Linked DNA regions of Homo sapiens. The protein of the gene in region 2 purifies or fractionates together with the protein of the main gene of each other region. This does not show direct contact. Each region holds a gene or a part of one and is shown on either strand. Other genes may lie near its edges.

Region 1 (4,047 bases), on a different chromosome or scaffold from region 2:
TGTCATAAATGTATCCTAATATAAGAAACAAAGTGTTTCCCATGTGTTTATTTTATGGTGTAAATTCCATGGTTAATCATCAGATAGCCTGTTATTTCTTAACAATGTTTGGTGTTGTTTTTAAAAATTTATTCTGAAGAGGCTTTAGTACAAAGTTCACAGTAAATTTTGATATATAGTTTAATCCATTTTACCATAAGAGTCTTAGAGCAGATAAATAGATAGCTTGTTTGAGAATTACATGTTTTACTAGTTGAAGAACTTTATTTTATTTAAGGGGAAGTAGCTAAAGAGGGACATGACTGTATCTGACACATTTAATATGAATATCTTGTTTTGTTTGTCTTTAGGAAACTTATAAAATGTGTAAAGAATTTTCACACAAAAACTGGCTGGTGTTCTACAAAGAAAAAGGGTGAGCTCTTTATTATAGAGGATTTAAACTGGAGTTCTTATTTGGCCCATTCTATTTCCTATTTTGATTATACTTGTTTACTATAAAGTGAATGTAACCAAATTATGAATGTTTTAATATAAAGTAACTTGCCCACATTGCAGAATATTGAGAAACAGATATAAGAAAAGCTAGTGCTCACAATTCCATGACATAGCCACTACTAACATGGCAATGGTTACTACTTTCCATTATTTTTACTTATACACACCCTGACATAGTTTAGAATTTTGCATATCTGTTTTTTTAATTAACATTTTTCTATATTATTACTTAATCTTAAAACATTCTTTTTATGGGTTGCATAATGTATCATGAAATGATTATGCCAGATTACTCAACCATTATCCTCACCATTTCCTTTCAGATACAGTTTTCTTCTTTTCCAGGAACAGCCTGACTGTGCTGGATGTTCTAGAAGGGCGAACTCACACCATCTCACTTCCCATCAACCTCAAGACAGTTTTCCTTGTAGCAGAGGACAAATGGCTTCTGGTGGAGAGCAAAACAAATCAGTGAGTGGCTTTATATAGTGTATCATGGAGTATGTTGTAGCTCAATCTTATTTATGAATTATCCAACATCTTTACTGTTCTGTCTTTCCTGTGTCTGTCCTTTAACAATTTCTGTGTTTGGCAGCATCTCTATATATGAGACTTATAAGAATTGAGGAGGGGAGAAAAAATAAATGTCACTTCTCAGAAAATGACATTGAAATTAACAGTTAAAAAATCATGACTTTTTCATATGATCCATATTTATTTGGGCTTTTTCCTATTTGTACATTGAGAATTCACTGTATTCTTGCTAAACTGGAGACACTTCAAAGTAGATTTTCCCTTCAAAGAGCCACAGTCTCTATCCTAGAGCTGTTGCCTCTTTGTAAATTCACAGAGTTCACACCTTAGAAGTGTCTTTCTCTTTTTATCTTGTGTATTCTGGTTTGGATGTGGTTATGTTTATGTTTATGTTATCTGACCCATTGGACTGTGCAGTTCTTGATGAAAGGCGGTGTCGACTTTGAGCACCTTCCCTCATGCACAACTCCACTAGCTAAGTGCAGACTCTTTCTGCCCCTCTGCTGACAAGCAGAAGTATCTCATTGCAGAGGATTTCTGCCTATATATACATCCATATTTTAGAAATGTTAAAAATAAGTAGATCAAGGAGACTACAGTTGTGAGGGCATCTATCTCCTAGCTGATCACAAATCAGAAGTCATACTCCCCCTTCCTGGCTGATCAAAGAGTTTTATCAAGAGAGGGTTACATGATAATAAGAGTGCACCCCATTAGAGTTGCTTCCCCTCCCCACAACCCTTTCTCTTATAGGAAGCATTGGATTTTTGCCTCACATTCATTACTGTATTGCTGTTGTGCACTGCTCTTTAACACAGTGTTGAGAAGTTATTTGTTAATTCATGATGAAACTCTAAAACTGCAAATTATACTGGAACTATAAAAAAGAGACTGAGGAGAATCTAATTTTTCTTAGTCTGGCCTTATTACTATTAGAAAAAGAAAAATTTCACTTAAGCTAGATGTTTTGTTTGTTTGCAGGAAATATCTTTTAACTAAGCCTGCACACATCGAATCTGAGGGTAGTGGGGTTTGCCAGTTGTATGTGCTGAAAGAGGAGCCGCCCAGCACAGGGTTTGGAGTTACACAAGGTAAATACTATGTCATCTGTGTTTATGGCTGTGTGAGTGCATGCTTGTACATATACTGTCTTCTAGAATCATTTAAGAACAAAACACCAGCCTATGTTAAGTTTACACCAAAAGAAAAAACTTAGTCACTACACCAGAAATAGTAAATAAGAATCTAGTATCTCAAATTGTCATAAGGAAGTTCACTGTTGTAAGCTCTGTCCTTGAATTTTTTTAACTGACAGATCAGTATTTTTATATACATTTAGGTTGCAAGTCTAATTTAGGATAACATCTTTTTTCTGCAGACTATTGGGATTTCTATTTAATTTATCACAGTTTTGGGGGATGAATAGTACTTACGAAAAAAATCTAAAACATACCATTGCCAACCCTTGGTTGGGTCAGTTTTTACATCTTTTCTACAGGGAGCTATTAATTATAATATTTATTCCTAATAAAATTTTGAATTCTGTAAATACTTGAAATCACTTTGGGAAGATGCCTTGATTATAAAAACAGCATTTTTTCAAACAAAAGCCCATGAATGTAATTTAAAATGTTTTCTCTTTTTTAACTTGTTCTTTTCCATTTGACTTGTTGAGAATAAAATCTTGCAAAAAATTAATTCCTGGAGCATTTCAGGAGCATATGGTGTCTAATGTTTGTACTTTTCAGAAACAGAGTTCAGCATACCTCATAAAATTTCCAGTGATCAACTATCATCTGAACATCTAAGTTCAGCTGTGGAACAAAAGATTGCCTCTCCCAACAGAATTCTCTCAGATGAGAAAAATTATGCTACAATAGTTGTTGGTTTTCCAGATCTCATGGTAAGCACCCATTTTTTAAATTATCGGATAAATGTTTCTTTCCCTTAGTTTGACCTATAATCTGTAAGCCTGTTTGAGGGGTAATTAAAAACATAATTTCCTGGTAAACATGTTGGATCAAGTCTTCCTTCCAAATCAGTCAGTAGAAAATATGTTATACCTAAATAGTTTCATTACACTTCAAAAATTAACATTGAAAGCGTAATGCAATGATAGAATTTAGTAGGGGGAAATGAGTATTCTCCATATGTGGGGGTTCATGTAATACAGTTTAAATGCTTAACCTTCTGATGGTAATTTTCTGTCATGTCTTCTATAATTTTTTAAAGTTAATTATTTTTCCATCTACACATTCTATATATTTATTTATTAACTTTTATTTTAGGTTCAAGTGTACGTGTGCAGGTTTGTTATATAGGTAAATTGCATGTCACAGGAGTTTGTTGTACAGATGGTTTGGTCATCCAGATAATAAGCATAGTACCTGATAGGTAGTTTTTTGATCCTCACCCTCCTCCCACTCTCCACCCTCAAGTAGGTGTCAGTATCTGTTGTTCCCTTCTTTGTGTCCGTATGTCCTCGATGTTTCGCTCCCACTTGTGAGAACATGTGATATTTGGTTTTTTGTTCCTGTGTAAAGTTAAATTTGTTGGATTGTCATTATTGTAGATTAAAATTTTCAACAGTCATGAAGATAGATTTATTTTCCATTGAGTTTTGCTCTGATTTATCATATCTTTGCAGCATCCAGGTTATAGTATAATGGCTAATTGTCTCAATTGATTTTCCTCTTAGATGGGCCCTTCTGTTATCTCCTATTACCTATAAAGGAGAAGCTATTTGAATTGACTGTAGGTGAAACTGGGCGACATCTTCCTCTGATGGAAATGTGGGGAAATTAATTATAAAAGTTATTTCAGTCCAAGTTGCCATCTAACAACCTTAGATGTAGCTCCATGTGTTCTGACTAAACATTTAATTTTTATAATTTCCTTTGTAGCTTTTAGATGGGATGATAGAATTATTTAAAGATAAAAATATGGGCTCTGCTTGACGGTACTCCAATTTTGTATGCCTCAACATTTTAATATAGTTAATGAATGCTGGGTACT
Region 2 (4,047 bases):
GTGTTGGGATTACAGGCGTGAGTCACCGCACCTGTCCAATCTCATTTATATTTTACGGCAGTTCTCTAAAACAGATACTAGTTTCCTTACCTTTAGAATGAGTATAAGGAGGCTCTGAGACATTAACTAACTTGCCCAGATTCTCTTAGATGGTAAGTGGCTGAGCTGGGATTTGAACCAAGGTGTGTCTAGGTTCAACATCCAAGTCTTAGTCACTACGTGGTTCAGCCATGCCTTGCAGTTTTAAGGCTACTCAGTTCTTGTTTTAGCATAACGGAAAGACAGACATTGGGATTCAGAAGTCTGGCTTTCCAGTTCCAGCCCTGCCACTTCTTGACTGTGTGACACTGGGCAAGTCATTAAACTCTCTGAGCCTCCATTTATCAGCAAAATAGAGTTAGTAAACATAAAGCTGTTGGAGGGTGAACAGATACCATGTGCCACCTGCAGAGCAAGGCACAGCACCTGGCCTGGCATGTAGAGGGCCCTCAGCAATTGTTGTTGTTATTGTTACTGTAGGTTTTATGCACCTGCTGGGTGTAACCTTAGGGGAGTACAATTGTTGTTGTTATTGTTACTGTAGGTTTTATGCACCTGCTGGGTGTAACCTTAGGGGAGTACAATTGTTGTTGTTATTGTTACTGTAGGTTTTATGCACCTGCTGGGTGTAACCTTAGGGAAGTACAATTGTTGTTGTTGTTGTTACTGTAGGTTTTATGCACCTGCTGGGTGTAACCTTAGGCGAGTCACTTAACCCTCAGACCCTCCTTGTTCCACTGGGGGCTGTTGTGTGAAATGAGAGTACTCATTGACTCCGCGGCCTGCCCGGAAATGCTGACGTTTATCATCCATTTTGCCTCCCCTGCTTCTCCTCCAGACATGGCGGTCGCTCTGCCACCTTCTTAACCTACCTGGGGCGTTTATTATTATTATTATTATTGGGACAGGAATCTTCCTCTGTCGCCCAGGCTGGAGAGCAGTGGCGCCATCTCGCTCACTGCAACCTCCGCCTCCCAGGTTCAAGCGATTCTCCTGCCTCAGCCTCCCCAGTAGCTGGCATTACAGGCACGCGCCACCACGCTCGGCTAATTTTTGTATTTTTAGTGGAGACGGGGTTTCACCATGTTGGTCAGGCTGGTCTCGAACTCTTGACCTCGTGATCGGCCCACCTTGGCCTCCCAAAGTGCTGGGATTATAGACGTGAGCCACCCCGCCCGGCCCTTACTATTATTTCTATATTTCATTGATTCTGAGAAGCCATTGATATGAAGGCACATCTTTATTTACCCACTAATAATATATTTGTTGATTAGTTGGTGACACGCCACCAACTGTAGATGCACCCGCACCTCAGGGATGTGAGATGATGGGTACACGTGCGTTTCCGAACGGATGAGAGTCCCGGAGCTCCCGGGCGGCGCAGACAATGGGGAACCGCCCAGCTTGGGCCGCGTTTACCAGCAGGAGGCCGCACGGGGGCGGGCGTCTGGCGGGGCCGGGGCGGCGGGTCCACGGGCTTTCGGGGGCTCAGGCCGGGCAGGGCGCAGCGCCGCCTCTCTGCTCTTCCCTCCGCCCGCAGACCTCGCTCAGGAGCGGGAGGGCCGCTCTGCGAGAGCTCCGAAGCCGTGAGAACTTCCTCAGCAAGCTCAACCGGGAGCTGATCGAGACCATCCAGGAGATGGAGAACAGCACGACCCTGCACGTGCGGGCCCTGCTGCAGCAGCAGGACACCCTGGCGGTGAGACCCGCGGCATCCGCCCGCCCTCCGTCCCTCCGTCCCAACCTCCGTCCCTCCCTCCCTCCCTCCGTCCCTCCGTCCCGCCCTCCGTCCCTCCCTCCCTCCCTCCCTCCGTCCCGCCCTCCCGCCCTCCGTCCCGCCCTCCCTCCGTCCCTCCGTCCCGCCCTCCCGCCGTCCCGCCCTCCGTCCCTCCCTCCCTCCCTCCGTCCCGCCCTCCCTCCCTCCGTCCCGCCCTCCCTCCGCGCACTCGCGCGCCCTCTCCTGCCTTTCCCCGCCCACTGCACGTGGTGCTTCCTCCACCTGGAAGACGCATTTCTTCACCCTTCACTCCCCTCACCTGGGCTTTGCAAGAGGACCGAGATGGGTTTCATCCCAGCGCGCCAGCACTCACTGGCCGGGAGACTTTTAGTTAACTTTGCCTCCCCGAGCTCTGTGAAATGCGGCACCATAGCACCCGTCCCAGAGGGGGTTCACCGGGCACATACTGTACCGGTGCGACAGAGGTCGCTGCTACCACCAACAGCATTTGCAAACACCTCTACGTGTAATAGCAAGCGATCTGTATGTCTTTATATAGTCCTTACAACAACCCTATGGGTGGACACTGTTACTGTCCCGATTAGCCTCTGGTCAGGTTTCTGGGAGTGAGGTTGGGACTGGGGACTCCTCTGAGGAAGTGCTGGGTGGCCGCCTCTGAGAGCCAGCAGAGCCTGTGGGTGAGTTGACTCCACCCCTCCCGCAGACCATCATCGACATCTTGGAGTACTCAAACAAGAAGAGGCTGCAGCAATTGAAATCTGAGCTTCAGGAGTGGGAAGAAAAGAAGAAATGCAAGATGAGCTGTAAGAATCCCTGGCAAATTCCTTGACCCTCCCCCCTGGCACCTTGGGGAGGTCAGCAGCAGAGCATTCACCTTGTACTTGCCATTCAGAAACCCTCAGCCCCATTGGCTCTCTTCTTGGCAGATGGGAATGCTAAGATACAGAGCGAATAGCATAGTTACCCAACACTTAGCTCTTTCCAGGCCCCGTATCTGGGTCTCTACCAATGTCTGCATTGTTACAGGCACACACTCAGTCATTGCAACTACTTGGAGGCAGGGAAGCTGTCCTCCCATTTTACAGATGAGGAAACCGAGGCTAAGAGAGGTGCAGTAGCTTGTGGAAGGTTATATAGCTAGGAGCCAGAATCCAATCCTAGCCTGGCTCTGTTTCCTGCCAAGGTCCTTCTGGGAGTCAGTGGCTGGGCTAGAACCTGGGTCTCCTGGCTTCCATCCTGCCTGGCCTGTGGTTCCTTTTCCCTGAGCAGACTACACACCTGCTGAGCAGAGGGGTGGTGGATCAGTCAACCCCAGACATTGGGGGTCTCTCTGGAGGAAGACAGGATAGACTTTGTCTTAATCCTGCCATGGGTTGTGTCTTGGGAGCCACTGTCACCCCATCTGCCTGGTCTCACTTCCTTGAGTGTGTCTCTGAGGAGACTGAAGTCTGGAGAGGGACAGTCTTGGCGAGAGCCACCCGGCAAGTCAGTGGCAGAGTGGGGACTAGTCTAGGGATCATGCACCAATTCCCTTCCTTTTTCCTACCCAGCATTGCCTCTTCTCCTGCAGGGGTGGAAAACCGTCTAGAGCCTTAACTTTTAACCACCTCCCAGCCCTGTGTGAGCTCACCTCAGCCCAGACCCCAGTTACTGGCCAAGGAGACCTTGCCTCCTGGGCCTCCTGGGGCCCAGGTGCTTGAGGGAAGGTCTTGCCTCCTGTCCCTGCTGACCTCCCTAACCCCTCCCCAGATCTTGAGCAGCAGGCAGAGCAGCTGAATGCCAAGATTGAGAAGACCCAGGAGGAAGTGAACTTCCTGAGCACTTACATGGACCATGAGTATTCCATCAAGTCTGTCCAGATCTCCACTCTTATGCGCCAGCTGCAGCAGGTTAAGGACAGCCAGCAGGTAGGGGAGCCCCTGCCCCTCTCCCACCAGACTGTGTGGGAGGCAGGACTGGTGACCAACACCCTTCTGCTGGCTCCCAGGATGAGCTGGATGACCTCGGTGAGATGCGCAGAAAGGTCCTGGAATCCTTGTCTGACAAGATTCAGAAGAAGAAGAAAAAAATTCTGAGTTCTGTGGTGGCGGTGAGTAGCCAGTTGCTGTGTGGGAGCGGGGATCCAGGTCTCACCCCCACCCCGCCCTCTTCCCCATCCTCTGCCTCCAGGCCCACTGCAGCCCCATCGGTCTCTACCATGTTCTGCTGCCCAGGAAGAGGCACCTGGGGGCCAGACCTCTTCTTCCTCCACAGGAAACCCAGCGTCCCTA
Region 3 (4,047 bases), on a different chromosome or scaffold from region 2:
ATTTTTCTTTGCTTTTCTTTTTTTTTGAGATGGGGTCTCGCTCTGTTGCCAGGCTGGAGTGCAGTGGCGCGATCTCAGCTCACTGTAACCTCCACCTCCTGGGTTCAAGTGATTCCCTTGCCTCAGCCTCCCAAGTGGCTGGGACTACAGGCGCACGCCACCACCACCGGCTAATTTTTTTTTGTATTTTAGTAGAGATGGGGTTTCACCATGTTGGCCACCTCGATCTTCTGACCTCTTGATCCACTGCCTTGGCCTCCCAAAGTGCTTGGAATTACAGGCATGAGCCACCGAGCCCAATGGTGTGATTTTTCATATATCTTTTATCCTTATAACAACTAGGTAAAAAATCCCAATTTTACAGTAGAGGAAACAAAGCTCAGGGCAGTTAAGTAGTTGCTTAAAAGCACAATTGGCTGAAGTAGAATTTGAACCTTAGATAATATGATTCTGAAGGCTTTCTTTTCTTTCTTCCTTTTTTTTTTTTGAGATGGGGTCTGGCTCTGTTGGCCAGGCTGGAGTGCAGTGGCATGATCTTGGCCTACTGCAGCCTCTGCCTCCTGGGCTCAAGCCATCCTCCCATCTCAGCCTCCCAAGTAGGTGGGACCACAGGCACGTACGACCACACCTGGCTATTTTTTAATTTTAATTTTTATTTTTTGTAGAGATGGGGTTTTGCTATGTTGCCCAGGCTGGTCTCAAACTCCTGAACTCAAGCAATCCACCCACCTCAGCTTGCTTTTCTAATTACAAATTGTCTCATTTGAATCATGGTCTCATTGTGTGATGCATTCATGAAATTTGAATGTTTAAGCCCTGTGTTACTTGACATCCATTATTTTCTTTTGTAATCAGTAAATATGGAAAAGAATGTTTAGGCTTATATGAATGCTTTAGAATTGCCTGGAGGTTAATGTTTCCAACATGCTGATAAATTTCTGACAAATCATTTGGGAAAAGAAATTTCTGAGATTATTACAGAAACTAGTTTCTGGTGTAAAAAAATGTTTATAGACATTTATATATTTATACATCTACCATTTGGATTTTATTCTGTTCCTGAGAGGTTCAGAACAGAGGTAAAAACTGCTCTAGTCCTTTTCTAAGAGGAAAAGATGTGACATTTTTGATGAAGAGTGAGGGAAAAGGATTTGTTTAAATGATTCCAAACTTTAAAAAATGTAGGTGGGAGAACAAGGATGAAAAAGGAATTTGGGAAGAAACACTTTTTTGGTGGGGCTGGAAACATAGTGTTTCATTGTAGGTATCTGGAGTTAGATGCCCGCAGGAGCCATGCTGAGGTGCTGGGTATCAGTGGCTGGCTTTTGGGCCAGGGATACGAGGCTAGAGTTAGAGTTAGAACTGTGAGCCCTGACGGATATAGTGAGTCAGTTAATATTTAATTGAATAAATGCTTCGTTTTATAACCCTAAATTAGGATTTGGAAGAAGGAAGAAGAGACAAGAGGAGTTAGAGGTATGGTTTGAGAGGAGCCAATGTAGTGTAGTGTTACCAAACCTAGGAAAGAAATTTCAAGAAGTAGTTAGCATTCATTCATTCATTTGTCTAGAGATCTAGCTCTTTACTCAGAAAGTGTTTGTGGAGCATTTTCTAAGTTCCAGGTACTATGGCACGTACAGAGGAGAGAAAAAGAAATTAAAACATATTCCCTAACTATGTCCCAGGTGCAGAGAGGCTAAGGAATAAAAGATTGATGAGGCCAGGTGTGGTAGCTCACGCCTGCAATCTCAACCCTTTGGGAGGCCAAAGTGGGAGGATTTCTTGAGCTCAGGAGTTTGAGACCAGCCTAGGCAACATAATGATACCACCCCCACCCCCGGCTATCTCTACAAAATAAAATAAAATAAAATAAAAATTAGCTGGGTGTGGTGGCACGTGCCTGTGGTTCTAGGTACTTGGGAGGCTGAGGAGGGAGGATCACTTGAGCCCAGGAGGTCAAGGCTGCAGTGAGCTGTGATCACACCAATGTACTACAGCCTGGGTGACACAGCAAGACCCTGTCTCAAAAAAAAGTCTGGGCACGATGGCTCATGCCTGTAATCCCAGCACTTTGGGAGGCCGAGGCAGGCAGATCACCTGAGGTCGGGAGTTCAAGACCAGCCTGACCAACATGGAGAAATCCCGTCTCTACTAAAAATACAAAATTAGCCGGGCATGGTGGCGCATGCCTGTAATCTCAGCTACTTGGGAGGCTGAGGCAGGAGAATCACTTGAACCCAGGAGGTGGAGGTTGCAGTGAGCCGAGATTGCACCACTGCACTCCAGCCTGGGCAACAAGAGCGAAAATCTGTCTCAAAAAAAAAAAAAAAAAAAAAAGATTGGTGAAAGAATTTGAAAAGATCTTTGATCTTTAATGAGAATAATTTTAGTAGCATGGTAAAGTGTTATATACAAAAAATACTGCTTTTGACAACACTCTTGAATAGTTGAAGCAAAATTATATTTTTTGAAAGATAAGCATATTGCATAACTTTCAAAAATTAGTTTCTTTATTTTAAATGCCTATTGACATTTTCGTTAGAAAAAACCCCACAAACTGATGGGATCAACCTAATAAGATCAAAATAAAAGTGAATTTAAAGAATGTTGGAAGATACAGTTTTGTGATTTCATTCACAAAACCTAATACAGCATCCATGTGGCATACTCTCTTTGGTATTGTTTGTTTGTTTTTGAGATAGAGTCTCATGTTGTCCAGGCTGGAGTTCAGTGGTGTGATCTCCGCTCACGGCAACCTCCGCCTCCGGGGTTCAAGTGATTCTCCTGCCTCAGCCTCCTGAGTAGCTGGGATTACAGGCATGTGCCACCATGCCCAGCTAATTTTTATATTTTTAGTAGAGACGGGGTTTCACCATGTCGGCCTGGCTGGTCTTGAACTCTTGACCTCAATTGATCCGCCTGCCTCGGCCTCCCAAAGTGCTGGGATTACAGATGTGAGCCACCGTGCCTGCCCTCTCTTTGGTATTATTTATTCAAGAAACCTTTGGTTTCCTAGAGCTGCTGTACAAATGACCATGGACCTGGTGGCTTAAAACAACAAATTCATTCTCCCACAGTACTAAAGGCCTGAAGTCTGAAATCAAGGCATGAGCAGGGCCATGCTTCGCCTGAAGGCTCTAGGGGAGAATCCTTTCTTGCCTCTTTGAGCTTCTGGTGGCTGCATTCATTCCTTGGCTTGTGGCTGCATCACTCCAGTCTCTGCCTCTGTCTTCACATGGCTGCCTTCTCCTCCTCCTTCTTGTGCGTCTTTCCCTCTCATTCTTTTATAAAGACACTTTTCATTGGATTTAGGGCCATGACAAGATCTAGGATGATTTCATCTCAAGATCCTTCACTTTGTTGTATTGGCAAAGACACTTTATCACAGGTTCCAGGACGTGGACACATCATTTTAGGGGCTATCGTTCAATTCACCTACACGTAGTATGTGTCAGACACTACTTAGAGCTGGGAATATAATTGTGACTGTTTCTGCTCCCATTGTGGTTACATTTGAGTAAGGAGACTGTGCTCGTATAAATAGAAAAGTTCAGAGAGTGAGAAGTGCTCTCGAAGGAAAAAGATAGGTTAATGGGATAGAGAGTGGTAGTGGTGCTGAGTTGGGGATGTTACCTAATGAGACCATGGGGGACATTTCTGAGCATGTGGCATTTGGACAGGAAACTGAGCCAGCCAGCCATGTGACTATATGGGGGCCTAGCATTGCAGACCAAGGAGTGCCAGGGCAAAAGCTCTGAGGGGAGATTGCATTTGGCATAATTAAGGGATGAATGTGGCTGCTGTGGTTGGAGTGAACTGAATGAGGGGGTGATCTTAGGAGATGAGGGAGGAGGAGTGGGTAGGCGGGACAGAGTCATCAGGGGCTTGTATTTGGAATTTAGTAATGAGAGTCCAGTTGGAGGCATTTAAGCACATTGAATTTATGTTTGGAAAAGACGTTTGTGACTAGTACGTAGCGAATGTCTTAGTAGGGGTGGGAGTAGGATTGGGGACTGGGGTGGGAAGAGTGGAAACAGAGAGACCCAT
Region 4 (3,332 bases), on a different chromosome or scaffold from region 2:
GAGGCCGAAGCAGGAGGATTGCCTGAGCCTAGGAGTTTAAGACTAGCCTGGGCAACATGGTAAGACCATGTCTCTATAAAAGTAAGTAAATAAGAATATCCAAAACAATAAATTTATAGTAAATGTGGTATTAAATGATACCATAGTGATTCAAGATATAGTTGAAGAACTATTAATTCTTAAGTATAATAAAGGTATAAAGGTATTGATCTTACATTTATAAAATAAGACCTTATTTCTTAGAGATACATACTGAAGTATTACAGAAGAAATTACATATCTGAGATGGGAGGGCAGCGTATGGATGAAATAAGACTAGAGATGAATTGATAATGGCTGAAGCTAGGTGATGAGTACATGAGAGTTCATTATAGCATTTCTCTACTTTTGTTTACATTTGTCCCTTGGTATCCATGAGGAATTGGTTTCAGGACCTCTCACAGATACTAAAATCCTCAAATGCTCAAGTCCCTTATATAAAATGGCATAGTATTTGCATATAACCTACACACATCCTCCTGTGTACTTTGAATCATCTAGATTATTTATAATACCTAATACAATGTAAATGCTATATAAATAGTTGTTTCTGTATCTTTTAGGGAATAATGCCAAGAAGAAAAAAAGTCTGTACATGTTCAGAACACAGTTTTTTGTTGTTGTTGTTGTTTTGTTTTGTTTCGTTTTGTTTTCATATATTTTCAATCTGTGGTTGTTTGCCAGGGATACAGAACCTGCAGTTGTGGAAGGCTGACTGGATTTGAAATTTTTCACTCTCACACACAAAACTGATAGAGCCAACAAAAGAACGTCTGTATTACATAAATGTAATGCTTCTACAGAGAGTCTTTAGACTTAAAAATGAGACCCCTCAAAAAAAGGAACTCCTAATATTAGGGCTCATCTTCACAGAGTTTGCTGCTGTTTGAAAATCCATTATTAAGTGAGATAATCCATTATCAATACTCTTCTGGAGCAAACTTGAGAAGTGTCAGAAAGAGAAATGGCCAAGTAGCCCTTTAGTGTTGTTCTCAATGTTTTGTTCTCTTTTTAATTCAACAGCGTATTCTCAGCTATGACACAGTGGTGCAAACAACTGGAGACTCGTGGCACATACCATATGATGAAGACTTGGTAGAAAGATGTTCCTGTGAAGTACCAACCAAATGGCTTTGCCTCCACCAAAAGACATAGAGATTCTTACCTCTATGCTAAGTTTGTGTTTGGGTACCCTCTAGGTTGGCATCAGAGGCTCTTGAGCTGGTGTTTGTTTAGGGCATTGCCTCTGTCCTGAAGATAAAAGGATTCTATTAACAGCATTGACATTGATTTTTTAATGAAATGAGATATATCTTTTCATAACCAGCTGCGTTTTTTTCCCCTAACATTTGTTTTTGGAGGCTTATCAAGAGTTGGAGAACTTAGTGTAGAGCAAAACCTGCATTTCTCCTACTGGGCCAGCTATTCCACTTAGCTTGGGTGACTAATAGTGCTTTTGGTATCCATTTTTTGCTACTTCTGACCTTGCCTTCCAGGCCTACCAATAGCAGAATCAATCCATCTGTCCCTGAGATACTCATGTTGTTTCAAATGCCTCCTCCCATTTCTGGCATAGTCTCATTCTCTGTATGTTATGCCCTATCCACATGGAATCATTTATCGTCCTCTGTAATAAACTGGCCAAGATACTAAAGGCTTACTATTCATAGCAGTTTTTAATTACTTATCATCCAATTATTTGGATTGGAGAAGAGGGGGCATTCACTCCTCTTTTTCTTATTTTTTTTGGAAATAGAGTCTCAACTTACTCTGTCGCCAGGGCTGGAGTGCAGTGACGTGATCACAGTTCACTGCAGCCTCAAACTCCCAGGCTCAAGCAATCTTCCTACCTCAGCCCTCCTGAGTAATTGGGACTACAGGCATGTATCACCAGGCTTGGCTAATTTTTTTTTTTTTTTTTGTAGAGATGGCTGTCTCACTCTGTTGACAAGACTAGTCTCCAACCCCTGGCCTCAGTCGATCCCCAGCAATTTGGGAGATTGAAGCGAGAGAATCACTTGAGTCTAGGAGTTCAAGACCAGCCTAGGCAACATAGTAAGATCTCATTTCTACAAAAAATTTAAAAATTAGCCAGGCATGGTAGTTTGCACACATAGTCCCAGCTACTTTGGGGGCTGAGGTAGGAGGATTGCTTGAGCCTCAGAGGTCAAGGCTGCAATGAGCCAACGTTGCACCACTGCACTCTAGCCTGGGTGACAGAGCGAGACCTTGTCTCAAAACAAAACAAAGTGCTGGAATTGCAGACTTGAGCCACAGTGCCCAGCCTCACTTCTCTAGACTATGATGGTTTTTTCTTCATTCTATAATCTCTTTTCCAAATTGGTTCAACATTTTGTGAACACTATTAATTTCATCATTCAGTATATGTGGGCTTTCTAAAATATGCCAATTTTTTTCCACTTAATCAAGTTTGACTTAATTTAACAAAGTGATTATATTTTAATAGTTACATTTCTGTTTTTTCCACTCACTAGCCAGCTTACAGTTTATTAGCCCTTGATTTCAGCTGAAAATATTCATGTCTGCACCCCTTCATGATAGTTCTTTCTTTACGTATACATACTGTATTCAATATGCAAGAACAGGCAAAAACTACTCTATTGTGATAAAAATCAGAATAGTAATTGCCTGAGGAAAGGGATATGAGAGAACTTGAGAGAACTTTCTCGGGGTGATGGAAAGTTTCTTATATTGATTTGGGTAATAGTAACATAGCTATATGTATATATTAGTTAAAATTCCTCACACTAAACATTTTAAATTGATATATTTACATTTATGACAATATACCTCAAAGTAAGTTAGGGTAAGAAAAGATAATTACTTACATGAAATAAACAATGACCTCTTTTATATCAAACCATATACATGTGTATAATTAGGGTATGTATTATGCACAGAGAAACAATTTAGGAAAATCCAAGGAGGGGACGTTTTATCTTCTTACCTATTTACTGAATGCAACATTACTGCACACCAAGACAAAAGAGCTCTCCAGGAAAACATTGGATATATTGAGAGCATTAAAAGATACTGCAAAAGCTCTAATAAATTCAGTCTGCTTATTTTCCAAATTTCATAAACTACATACTTAGGAAACTGTGCTTTCAGTGAGCTAAACTTCTTTTTTTAAGTAACTATCATAGTTTTAAGAAAAACATTTTAAGAAGACAAAAAGTATTTATTAAGCCCATCTAAAAGGCTAATGCAAATTCCCAAAAAAGGAGCACATAGAGATAGAGGAGGAGGCCGAAGTGGTGGCTCATACCTGT

What was found.
Region 1: the proteins of C20orf96 (region 2) and VWA8 purify together in Homo sapiens (affinity purification with mass spectrometry; one large-scale study listed by BioGRID and IntAct). This does not show direct contact.
Region 3: the proteins of C20orf96 (region 2) and PCCA purify together in Homo sapiens (affinity purification with mass spectrometry; one large-scale study listed by BioGRID and IntAct). This does not show direct contact.
Region 4: the proteins of C20orf96 (region 2) and PRORP purify together in Homo sapiens (affinity purification with mass spectrometry; one large-scale study listed by BioGRID and IntAct). This does not show direct contact.

Annotation. Positions count from the first base shown.
Region 1 is NC_000013.11:41,688,242-41,692,288, reverse strand, and holds part of VWA8 (von Willebrand factor A domain-containing protein 8 isoform a precursor), read left to right. Parts: intron 1-350; coding exon 351-415; intron 416-843; coding exon 844-969; intron 970-2,013; coding exon 2,014-2,123; intron 2,124-2,780; coding exon 2,781-2,935; intron 2,936-4,047. UniProt on the Homo sapiens protein: Exhibits ATPase activity in vitro.
Region 2 is NC_000020.11:276,863-280,909, reverse strand, and holds part of C20orf96 (uncharacterized protein C20orf96), read left to right. Parts: intron 1-1,579; coding exon 1,580-1,738; intron 1,739-2,480; coding exon 2,481-2,580; intron 2,581-3,526; coding exon 3,527-3,684; intron 3,685-3,764; coding exon 3,765-3,866; intron 3,867-4,030; coding exon 4,031-4,047.
Region 3 is NC_000013.11:100,091,914-100,095,960, forward strand, and holds part of PCCA (propionyl-CoA carboxylase alpha chain, mitochondrial isoform a precursor), read left to right. Parts: intron 1-4,047. UniProt on the Homo sapiens protein: This is one of the 2 subunits of the biotin-dependent propionyl-CoA carboxylase (PCC), a mitochondrial enzyme involved in the catabolism of odd chain fatty acids, branched-chain amino acids isoleucine, threonine, methionine, and valine and other metabolites.
Region 4 is NC_000014.9:35,272,373-35,275,704, forward strand, and holds part of PRORP (mitochondrial ribonuclease P catalytic subunit isoform 1 precursor), read left to right. Parts: intron 1-1,062; coding exon 1,063-1,194; 3' UTR 1,195-3,332.